Linked DNA regions of Homo sapiens: region 2 is linked to region 1. The links come from fine-mapping of genetic effects on gene expression. A gene starts in region 1. The other region holds a variant in brackets. All regions are shown on one strand. Distances are between the middles of the regions.

Evidence for each region. PIP is the estimated chance that this variant, and not a neighbour inherited with it, causes the effect. A credible set is the group of variants that fine-mapping cannot tell apart.
Region 2: its variant is the best candidate, but not a certain one, in a credible set for the expression of OPN3 in testis (GTEx, PIP 0.75).

Annotation. Positions count from the first base shown.
Region 1 is chr1:241,637,990-241,643,369 of GRCh38, forward strand. OPN3 (opsin 3) reads right to left here and starts at 2,380. Exons shown (of 4, transcript NM_014322.3): 1 at 1,893-2,380. The coding sequence starts at 2,265. It overlaps CHML (CHM like Rab escort protein), which reads right to left and starts at 2,380. Exons shown (of 2, transcript NM_001381853.1): 1 at 1,893-2,380. RefSeq lists enhancers at 1,507-2,077, 2,078-2,647 and silencers at 1,750-1,799, 2,130-2,709.
Region 2 is chr1:241,598,162-241,603,541 of GRCh38, forward strand. The region is part of intron 2 of OPN3 (opsin 3); the gene reads right to left. Among named protein-coding and RNA genes, the nearest start is that of CHML, 40 kb to the right of the region's middle. The variant A/AT (reference allele first, on the strand shown) is at 2,193.

The DNA of each region.
Region 1 (5,380 bases):
CCTGGATCTAGAAGCACAAACTCCGGAATTTACTCCAGGCAAAGAAATCATCTTCGCTAAAAACTTTTTAAACTCTATAGTAACTTCACTACTAACTTGCCCCCCAGGGCTTAAGTCTCGGAATCTCTTATCTCAGGGTTTCCACCTCTACATTAAAAACAGGGAGAAAGTCATGGTTGAAAGCACTAAATGCCCTGAAAAATAGGGCAGCCCTCAGGCAAAAATCTAAGTGAACTTAGAAAATCACTGGGCTGGGACCCTAGGAGGGATGGTGAAGAAGAAAAACAGGAAGGGAGAAGTGACCAGGAGACACAGGAGGGTGGGATCAGCAGAGGAAAGAGGTGAGGAAGAGGGTGGATGACAGCTAGCACTTATAAAGAACTCAGTACACCCTTGTGTTCAAACTCCCGGGCACGAAAACAGAATTTTCCAGCACAGAAAAGGCACTTCAAGGAAAAAAGAACTTTGATGTCTGTGAACAAACACCTGTTGACTACCCTGGAGAACACTACTGATGATACTTTAGGCTTGGGCTTGAATAACCTTCTTAGCATTGCCGAAGAAACTGCCTGATAGGTATTTTACAATTAATATAAGGAGTGTAATCCCATAGTCGTCCATACCACAGCCTACATACACTTGCAGTCCCCTCCCTAAATTTCAAATGTTTGTTCAAATGAAATTATCAGATTAAAGCTTATGAGGGGCGGGGAGGAAAATATTATAACCTCTGAAGCAATCAAATAAAATCTATTTTCTTATTTCCTTCAAAACGCCAAAAAATGAATCATTACAAATATAATATTTGGGTTTGTCATAGCATAGAGGTTACTGAATAAGAAAATATTTTTGATAATTCTACAAAGATTTTTGTTCTCCCAAACCTACCAAGATTAAAGCAATAAAGTATCAATGGATTTCAGGATTTAAAAAAGGAACTTTAAGCCTTGAGAAATACACATTTCTATTTCAAATCTCCCTACAAATGAAATTCCTGAGGCACACAAAAAAATAATTTCCTTTCTACGCTTCCTTCAATGATTTGCTGAGTTGTTGATCATCCTTCAAAACATCATGTCTCAGTGAAACTTAAATCTTCCATAATAAGAGTACTGTCGAAATACATCTTCAACAATGAAGTTCTACTTTAATGAAATCTACCGATTGCAGAGCTAATTACAGTATTTGTTCACCTGAGATGGTATTGGCTGAGCCATTTGTAATCTCACCCAAGATTCTGGTGTGCTGGAACCCATCTATAAGACGGAAAATAGTAAAAACAGCTTACAGGGCACATGCCAATTTGCATTCTGAGGACCTGAATGAAACTGTCTCATTCCCTAGAAAGCATTCAAAGGTTTACAAGTACTAATGAGAATTTTTTTTTACACATTGTTATTTTGGTTTTCTACTCTCATTTTAGGAAACAAATAGTAGTACATGAATCTAATCTCATCACTCCCTCCAACTTTCACGAGTTAATCACTTTTTTTCTTGAATCTCTTGACTCTACAGGCCCTCGTCTCTTTCCTCAAAGTGTAAAAAGCCGTGGTTTCGTGCCTTGTTGAGTGATCTTAGGAGGTAAAAACAAATAAGAAAGGAGGCGGGCCGGGGTTTGGGGTCAACGTGGGGGGCAGATGAGAGACCACAGGAATGGAGTCCTGGACAGCGTGGGGCGGGAGGGGACGGAGGAAGAGGAAGGCACCCGCCATGCGGCTGGGGTCGGGCAGCGTTGAGGAGGCGAGCGGGGAGCGGGGCGGTGTAGGGCGGGGGGCGCGGGGCCGAGCGGGAAGCGGTGCGGGGCGGGCTGGGGGGCGGACGCACGGAGCGGGCAGCGGGGTGGGGAGTGGAAGTTTGCAGAGGGGAGGCTGCCTTCTCCCAGTCCAACTCACCGAAGAGGCTGCCGCTAAACCCGTCCCACACGCAGCCCACGGTGTCCCACACCCAGCCGTTCCTCAGGCAGGACACGAAGGTAAAGGTGACCCCGAAGAGGGACACCAGCAGGTCGCTGAGGCTGATGTTGACCAGGAGGAGGTGAGTGGGAGTGCGGAGCCGCTGGAACTTGTAGTAGAGGACGAGCACCAGCAGGTTGTTGCCGACGCCCAGCAGCCCAATGGAGCCCAGCAGCAGCGCCAGGCGCTCGTAGGTGCCGGGGCTGAAGAGGGGCGCGGGGCTCAGTGTCCCCGCCGGCGCCGGCCCCTCAGCGCCCGCGGCCCCGCCGCCGTCCCAGTAGCCGTGGCCGCCGCTGCGGTTCCCCGAGTACATGGCCCGGCGCCGGCGCGCCTGGCGGGCGGAGGCGCTCAGCTTGCGGCGGGGCTCGCGGCGCGCTCCGCACTGGGTGGGGTTGGGGCTCCGCCGCCTGCTCTAGCCATTGTGCACTGAGGGGCCCGCGCTACCGCGCGCCGGGCCCGCCCTCTTCCCGCCCCTTCCGCCCGGCGCACCCCCCGTGGCCCCGCCCCTCCCCGCGGCCTGTCCTCGTCGCTCCGCTGCTCCCGGCGCGTCCTCTTAGCCCCGCCCCCCCGCGGGCGCGTCCTCGCGGCTAGCTCGCCCCGCCCCCACTGGCTGGGCACCTTCCGCTGGTCGGCGTGGACGCGCGTCGCGGGATAGCCTGGGGGCCAGGGCCGCAGGGTAGCCTCGATGGCTCTTCACACCCCCACCTCCCTGCACCCACCTTGAAAGCTTCGTGTCCACTCACCCATTCATGCACTCACTTATACATTCATTTATTCCTAAGTATTTATGAGCGCCTGCGCCCACCACGTGCTGGCAAGAATTGGGTTTCTCCCCTTCCTGGGAAGCTGTAATAACCCACAACCAGCCTACGAAGCCCATCCCGCGTCATACACTCAATGTAAACAAAAGCAAAGAAAACATTGAAGAGCTCGGGGTAGTCTTACCGGAAAACTGAGAAGAAAAACAACAAATTGATAGACAGGTGCCTGCCTAACTACCTGACTGCTAGAGGACACATGTCCCAGGGCTGATACAAGAGCCTGCCACCCTTGGAGAGTCTGGGATGAAAACTCTCTGAAAATGGCATTCCAATGGAACTGACTTTAAGCCCTGGGCTGGACCCCAAGGCCTTCCAATACCGTCCTTCCTGTGCTTGAAAGCGTGGGTAGATCTTTCCGGTCACTGAGGCCTGCTAAAGTCCTTCACAGGCAGTGAAAGATTCAACCTAAATCTAGCAGGTATAGGAGGCAGGTGCTATATTTAGAACAGCACACATTTCCCATTGGGCCTCTTCTCCTGTAGTGATGAGAATATAGTACAAGTCAAATATAGGTTGTGAACGTCATCACACTCTGCAAGAGCTGCTTCTGCCTTTGTGGTTGCACAATCCCTAAGGAGGCCCTACAAGAAGATCACAGTCCCCAGCCACACCTGCAGCCTGTCCTGGACACTGGTGACGAACACAGGGTTTGTGCAAGCTAAAGAAACTGCTCTCCATACGGGCGTGCCTCACCTCTGTTTGAAAGATCAGTAGGGAATGACTAGCTTGGATCAATCCACATTCTGAATTCCCTGGAGAGAGGATCTAATAGGCTGGCAGCAGCTCTCCACCCTGGTGCACTGAGCAATAGCTAAGGGGCAGTGTGCTCTGCCTTTGACACCTTGATTTTCCTTCAAGGCTTCTGCTCTGGACTCGCCATCTGTGAGACTTCCTACCCACCCACCCCTTAAAAAACACACACACACTTTTAATTGTTAATTTTAGATTTGTACAACCACTGAACAAAACATAACTATTTAACAAGTTCTATATGTTTAATGTCGAAAGTGTTTTCTGTGTCTAGTCTACAGTAAGTTCTCAATAAATAGTAATTTGAATGAATGAATAAAGAACTCGCTATATTTTTTCCTATTCATTCTTCATTGCTGAGTCATTGCCCTTATAAAGCTCACATTCCAGTCGTGTTGGGAGAACAAACAAAAATTAGATAAATACGTAGGGTGTCAGCCACTGACAAATGCCATGAAGAAATAGGGGTCAGGCGTGGTGGCTCATTCCTGTAACCCCAGCACTTTGGGAGGCCGAGGCAGTAGGATTTCTTAAGCCCAGGAGTTCAAGACCAGCCTGGGCAACAAAGTGAGAACTGCCCCCTAACTCTTCAAAAAATAGAAAATTAGCCAGGCAAGATGGTACATGTCTGTGGTCCCAGCTACTCAGGAGGTTGAGCCAGGAGCTATGGGAGATGGGGCAAGGAGTTTGTAAGAGTTAAAGAAAGAGGAAAGAAACACTAATAGCAGCTCAACAGTCAGACAGTGTTATTTGGAAGAATAAACCTAAGAGGGGCTTCTGGCCGATTTCGGTCAGGAGCACTCTCTTACAGACTAAGAGTATTTAAGGATTTTAGAGTGAGAGAGCTTATCACAGGCGTGGAATGTTTCTGTTTGGAGAAGAAGTTTATTGCCAAGTTGGAATGTCTCTGTCGGAGGGGAGGTTATCTCGGGGCTCGCATGTCTCTGGTCAGGGAGGGGTTTATCTTAGGGTTGGAATGTTTCTGGTCGGAGATGTCATTTGTGGTGTATGGTCATGCTGACCTTAGCCATTAGGCTGATGCTGTTTGGATTTAGGTGGTTTTTGATCAAGGGGAACTTTAAAATGGCAGTGCTTGTCCATGATGGTGATGCACCTGCTCTGTCAAGGTTGTTATTTAGACAAGGTGGTTATGGGCAGGAGTACTGTATTGGTATGTTGGAGGAACAATAAGGAAGCAAGAATGAGAATCGGGAAATGCAGCCAGTCAGGTGGGTGTGCAGTGAATGGCCAGAATATGCAGGACCTTGGCCATTTCAATAAAAGGACTTTGGCTTTTACTCAATCAGAGTAAAGTCCAGGGCAATGCCTACTAGCAGTGAATGCAAAGGAGGAGTAAGAGGCCTTTGACAAATGCTTAAGCATTTTTGACACAGTAATTTTACAATACTATGAACCATTAAGGACATTTATTGAGCTTGACAGAAACAGGCAATGATAAGGATATATGTTTCTTTTTTAATTTTAGAATTATGTAATGACAGGATAATGGCAGAACACTACAATCTTTTATTAAAAAAAAAAACAAAAAACAAACAAATGAAAAACACCAGCATGATATAGTTTGGATGTTTGTCCCCACCCAAATCTCATGTTGAAATATAATCCCCAATATTAGAGGTGGGTCCTAGTGGTAGGTGTTTTGGTCATAGGGGGCGGATCCCTCATGAATGGCCTGGGCCATCCCCTTTGTGATAAGTGAGCTCTGGTCATCTAAAAGTGTGTGGCAACTCCGCCATCCCACTCTCTCTCTCTCTCTCTCCCTATCTGGTTGTCGCCATGTGAGATGCCTGCTCTCACTTTGCCTTCCACCATGAGTAAAAGCTCCCTGAGGCCTCC
Region 2 (5,380 bases), 40 kb before region 1:
GTCCAGCTTTAACCTTGCCGGGCCTCAGTCTCCCCACTTACAACATAGGGTGGTTGAGCTACAGAGCCTCCTACATCCTTCAGTGTTTTTTTTGACGTTCTCTTATTTACTTAATAAGAATAACATTATTTTGCCTAGATCTTCAAGTCTCTAAAAGACAGCCTGAGAGAGTCACGATAAAATGCAAAGAATTTCCCTGTGATCCTGGAAACTCTATAGAGTGTTAGTCCTCCAGTTCTCAAATCAGACTGCACACCCATGTCATGTCAGGTGTTCTGCATGATTAAGCCTGCAGCTGGCCTTGATGAGCACTTAATTCCCAAGTGAATTCTTACTGAAAACCAGCTTTTCAATTCACTGCTAATGACTGTAAAGTAGAATTTCAGGAGAAATTTGTTTGTGATTGGCTTCATTAGGGGATCACTTGCAGAGAACAGCACTTGGTAAAACAACTCCTTCCTCTAAAACCAGCCTGTCTACTCGCAGTCTGTTCCCATTAAAGGGATGGAGGAGTAATGATGTACAGCCTGAAAGTTCTTTGAGTTTCTTGAATATGTTTCTTTTTGCTGTTTCTCCTATTATTATATATGTGTCATAATAATACACAGGCAAAGAATATTTCTGCACACCAAAAATGTGTTCCTAAATCAAAATAGTTCTCTCTAAACATTGTAATAAGTTATATGAATTATACTACAAAAATACAAATACTCTATATATTGATTTTTTAAGTAGTTAGCATATAGTTAATACTTAGTATTGATTACTTTATGCCTGGAAATTTACTGCATTTCAATGAACTCTAAGTGTACCTTTTGGTTCTAGCATTATCATAAAAATTAAGAGAAAGAATTTCCAAAGAAATCATTTAGAACATGTGCTTAGATTATTTAGAAATATATTTTAATTAAAATTCTCAAATTACTGATATCCAAAATTATATTTAAGAAATTATATTCTTATCAAAATCATGTATTCAGATTAGCAAAGAATAGAGAGAAATAGGAAAAATTTAAATCATTGATTTTTTTAGGGTAGAGAGACTATGTGCAGGGAAAAGTGGGTATTAAATTTCTGGTATTAGTTTGGTGCAAAAGTAATTGTGGTTTTTGCCATTAAAGGTAAACCTTTGAAGGTCACCTTATTTAAAGGTAAATAATATTCCTTTACCACTATGCCAATTACTTTAAAAAATCAATATATAAAGTATTTGTATTTTTGTAGTAAAATTCATATAACTTATTACAATGTTCAGAGATAACTATTTTTATTTAGGAACATATTTTTGGTGTGCAGAAAGGTAAATAATTTACCTTTAAAAAAGGTTACCTTTAAAGGTTTACCTTTAACGGCAAAAACCGCAATTACTTTTGCACCAACCGAATACTACTATTCTGTGTGTGCAATTCTATTTTAAAAGAAACTGTTTTATTTAATGGGATAGAATATTTTTCTATTTTCAAAACATCATTTTGGGGGAGCTTCCCTAGTTTATAGGAAGGCTGTGGGGTTTTGATAAAAGGTCTAGATTTGGAATTAGAAGATCTAAGTTTATATCCCAGATTAACCACTTTTGCTCGCAGTGTGATATTGAGCAAGTCAACAACCTCCTCTAAGAGTAAACAAGAAAGGAGGTAAAGCAAAAAAACCTATGAGAATTAACAGAACTTGAGTTCCATTTCCACACGTATGACTTTGTGGGGTTGTTTTTGAGGTTAAATACTTATTTATATTTGAACTAGATATGAGACTAACACACTTGTATGTATATGTACATTTATGATACTATAGGATATCTGGAATCATTATTGACTCTTCAGAGTTTCAATTAACAAGCAACATAACCACATCTCAGTTATCTGCCTCCCAAACCTCCAGTATTTAGGTCCAATCGTTTTATCTGTACCATTTTCTGGGCAGGTCAGTCTTTATCCCCTCTCGCCATTTATCAAAGGAGAACACTCATTTATCCATCTTGGAATTACATGCATGCTGGGGAAATTAATTTAAATAAATGTTTGTCTATACATCCCCAGTTCCTCTTTGGGATAAGGAGAAGATATTGACTAATGTTTTAGATTATTTGGGTTTATATATGTGAAGTTTTCATGATTATTTTTTATTTATCTTTTTCAGGCCTCTTTCTTTCATTACTTTCTATTCCTTCATTCTGCTCATTAAATATTTTCCAA[A/AT]TAAAAAACTCGATTTCATGTCTTACCCTCTTTATTCAATCATTTGAGGATAGTTTTCAAAATTGCTATGGATGAAGCAATTTTGAAATGATTGGCACAGGCACAAATTTGTCCTAAAGAATGAACCAGCTAAGACAAATTCTTCAGAATTCTCTATCAGATTGTTCTCTGGCTGTATAAATGGCTGGTGCCTAGTGCTCCTTAATCCAAGACATCTGTAGATTTTCAAAGAATTTCACTGTGAATCTTCATTCTCAAGTGTGTAGCTATGTCTCCATCGTTGTTATGAGTCACCTCTCTCTGAATAAGGAAACGGAGGCAAATTACTTGCAGTGAGCTCTCTGTTTAGATAGCAGCTAAAGTCAAATCTCTTCACACTTTCACCCCTTCTCCTGTCTTCCCCTTTCTATGCCCTCTGCTTGTAACTCATTCCAAAAATAGTCACTGATTACCTACTACATGCAGACACTGTTCCAGTCACAGGTGAGAAAATACATAAGACCCAGTCTCTGCTCTTGAGGAATTCACTATTTGGTGAGGATGATGCACACTGAGCGGGTAGAAGCCATGAGGGAGGTAAACAGGGAGGATATGGTAGTACACAGGATGGGAAACTGGTTCTGAGGGTGGGTTAGAGCAAGAAAATCGTGCTGTTAGCCTTGTGAGGGAAGGAGGAATTAGTCAAGTAAGGAGGAGAGACAGAATGTTCCAGAGAAAGAAAGTGTGCTAAGACAAGAGGCAAAATAAAAAGTCAGTTTCTGAAAACAAGAAATATTACCATTGGCCGCATCATGAGGTGGCAAGAAGACAGGAGTGTCAAGAAATGAGGCTGGACAGGTAGACAGGAGATGCCATACAGGACCTGCCGGCCACACCCAGGGGCTTTATTTTGAGTCACAAAGACAGTGGAACTTCTGAAGGTAATACTTGAGAACAACTACTCTGATGGCAGTGTGTAAAGAATGGAATAGAGGAAAGCAAAAATTTTAAAAAGGAGAACTAAGTTTTTTTTTTTTAACTGAGTCTGTGGCAGTGGGAGAGGAAAAAATGGATATACCAAAAAATATAGGGCTAGGAGCAGTGGCTCACACCTGTAATCCTAGCACTTTGGGAGGCCAAGGCGGGCAGATCATGAGGTCAGGAGTTCGAAACCAGCCTGGCCAACATGGTGAAACCCCATCTCTACTAAAAATATTTTAAAAATTAGCCAGGCATGGTGGTGGGCACCTGTAATCCCAGCTACTCAGGAGGCTGAGGCAGGAGAATTGCTTGAACCTGTGAGGCGGAGGTTGCAGTGAGCCGAGATTCTGCCATTGCACTCCAGCCTGGGCAATAAGAGTAAAACTTCGTCTCAAAAAACAAAACAAAACAAAACAAACAAACAAACAGAAACAAAACGAAACAAAAAAACATGTAAGTGGCATGGATAAGAACTGATCAATAGTTGTGTGTTGGGGGAGACATGGATGACACATAGTCAAAGATTACTCCCTAATTTCTGGTCTTGGTATCTAGGAATGATGACTATTCAATGAGAAAGCAAATAGACGAGCAGAAGATTTTAGGGAAAATATGACAAATTAATCTTTATATTTGTTAAATTTGATGAGTCTGTGGACCATCCAAGTGGAGGTGTTCAAGAGGCAATTGACTACGAGGATCTGTTAGAGGCTGGAAGAAAGACCTGAACTGGAAATGGAGATGTTATCAAGCTTGTGTCAGAAGGAGAAATCCTGGCAGTATGAAAGACCACCCAAGGCCAGTGTGTAGCATGGGACAAGAGCTAAACATAGGATGCTGGGGAGGCCCAAAGAAGAGAAGCCCTTGGAAGAGATAAGAAGATGGCGCCAGAGAGTCAGCAACAAAGACAGCAGAGAAAGGCGCCCTAGAATCGATGGCAGGAGACCACCACAAGAAAGTAGAAGTTGGCAATAGTCTCAAACGCTGAGGATGCTAGAAAGGAATAAAAATGTGTCCATGGGATCACATATCTGGGAGCTCATCAATGACCTGAAATGAGGGCTGTATTAGTGGCAGTGCGGTAGAGGAAGGAGTCACAAGTTTGCCTTAAGTTGAGGAATGAATGCTAGATAAACTTACTAAACTACCAACTCCCTGAACTACAACAGAAATGTATTTCTCACAGTTCTGGAGGCTGGGAAGTCCCAGGTAGAGTAGCTGGCAAGGTAGGTATCATTCTGAGGCCTCCTCTCTTGACTGTTATCTCACTGTGTGCTTCCATGTTCTCTTATTTATGCACTCGTGGGAAGACAGAAAGAGAGACAGAGAGAGAGAGATAGAGATAGAGAGAGAGAGAGAAAGAGCAAGCTTTCTGGTGTCTCTTCTTACAAGGACACTAATCCCCTAATCCCATCAGACCAGAGCCCCATCCTCATGACCTCCTCTGACCCTAATTACCTCCCAAGGCCCCATCCCCAAATACTGTCACATCGGTGGTTAGAGATTCCACGTAGGAATCTGAGAGGGACACAAACATTCAGTCTATAACAGCAAGAAATTGGCATATTTGATATGCTCAATAAATATCAGGTAAATGAATGCTTAGTGAGTGACATTGTGGCACCAAGAGTCACCAATGGTTCTTTGAGTTAGCAGTGACAAAATGGAGAAAAATAAAGTGATAGCTAGAGGGAGCTGAGAGTAGATTGTGATTAAAAACAAAATAGCCTGGTAATATGCTAAAGGGAAAGGGCCAGTGGTAAGGGAGAGTGTGAAGATACAAGGGAAAGAGAAAATTATTAAGAAGTGTCTCTGGGGCATGGAAGGGGGTGGGGGAGCAATCAGAATACAGAATCGAGTTGGTCCTGGGAGACCTCTCCTGTCGCCCTGTAACTGAAGAGAGAGTCCTAAGAATCAGTGGTTTGTGTAAAGAGAGGTAAGGAGTCAAAGGAACCCTTGATAATGGCTTTGTTTGGTCCGATAAATCAGAAGCAGACTTACTTGATAAGAATGAGAGGAGACAGTAGGGTGAGAAATTAAAATGAGAAATGAGTCTGTGTAATAGTCACAGTGTGGAGACAGTAGACCACACATACAGGGATAGAAAGGTTGGTAGAACAAGGCTGAGAGGACATCTAAGTGTAGACAGATGTGTTTTGTTTTTTTTTTTCCAGCTCCTCCTTGCAGTTTGACTACAGGCATAGAGAAAATAGATGATTGAACTGATC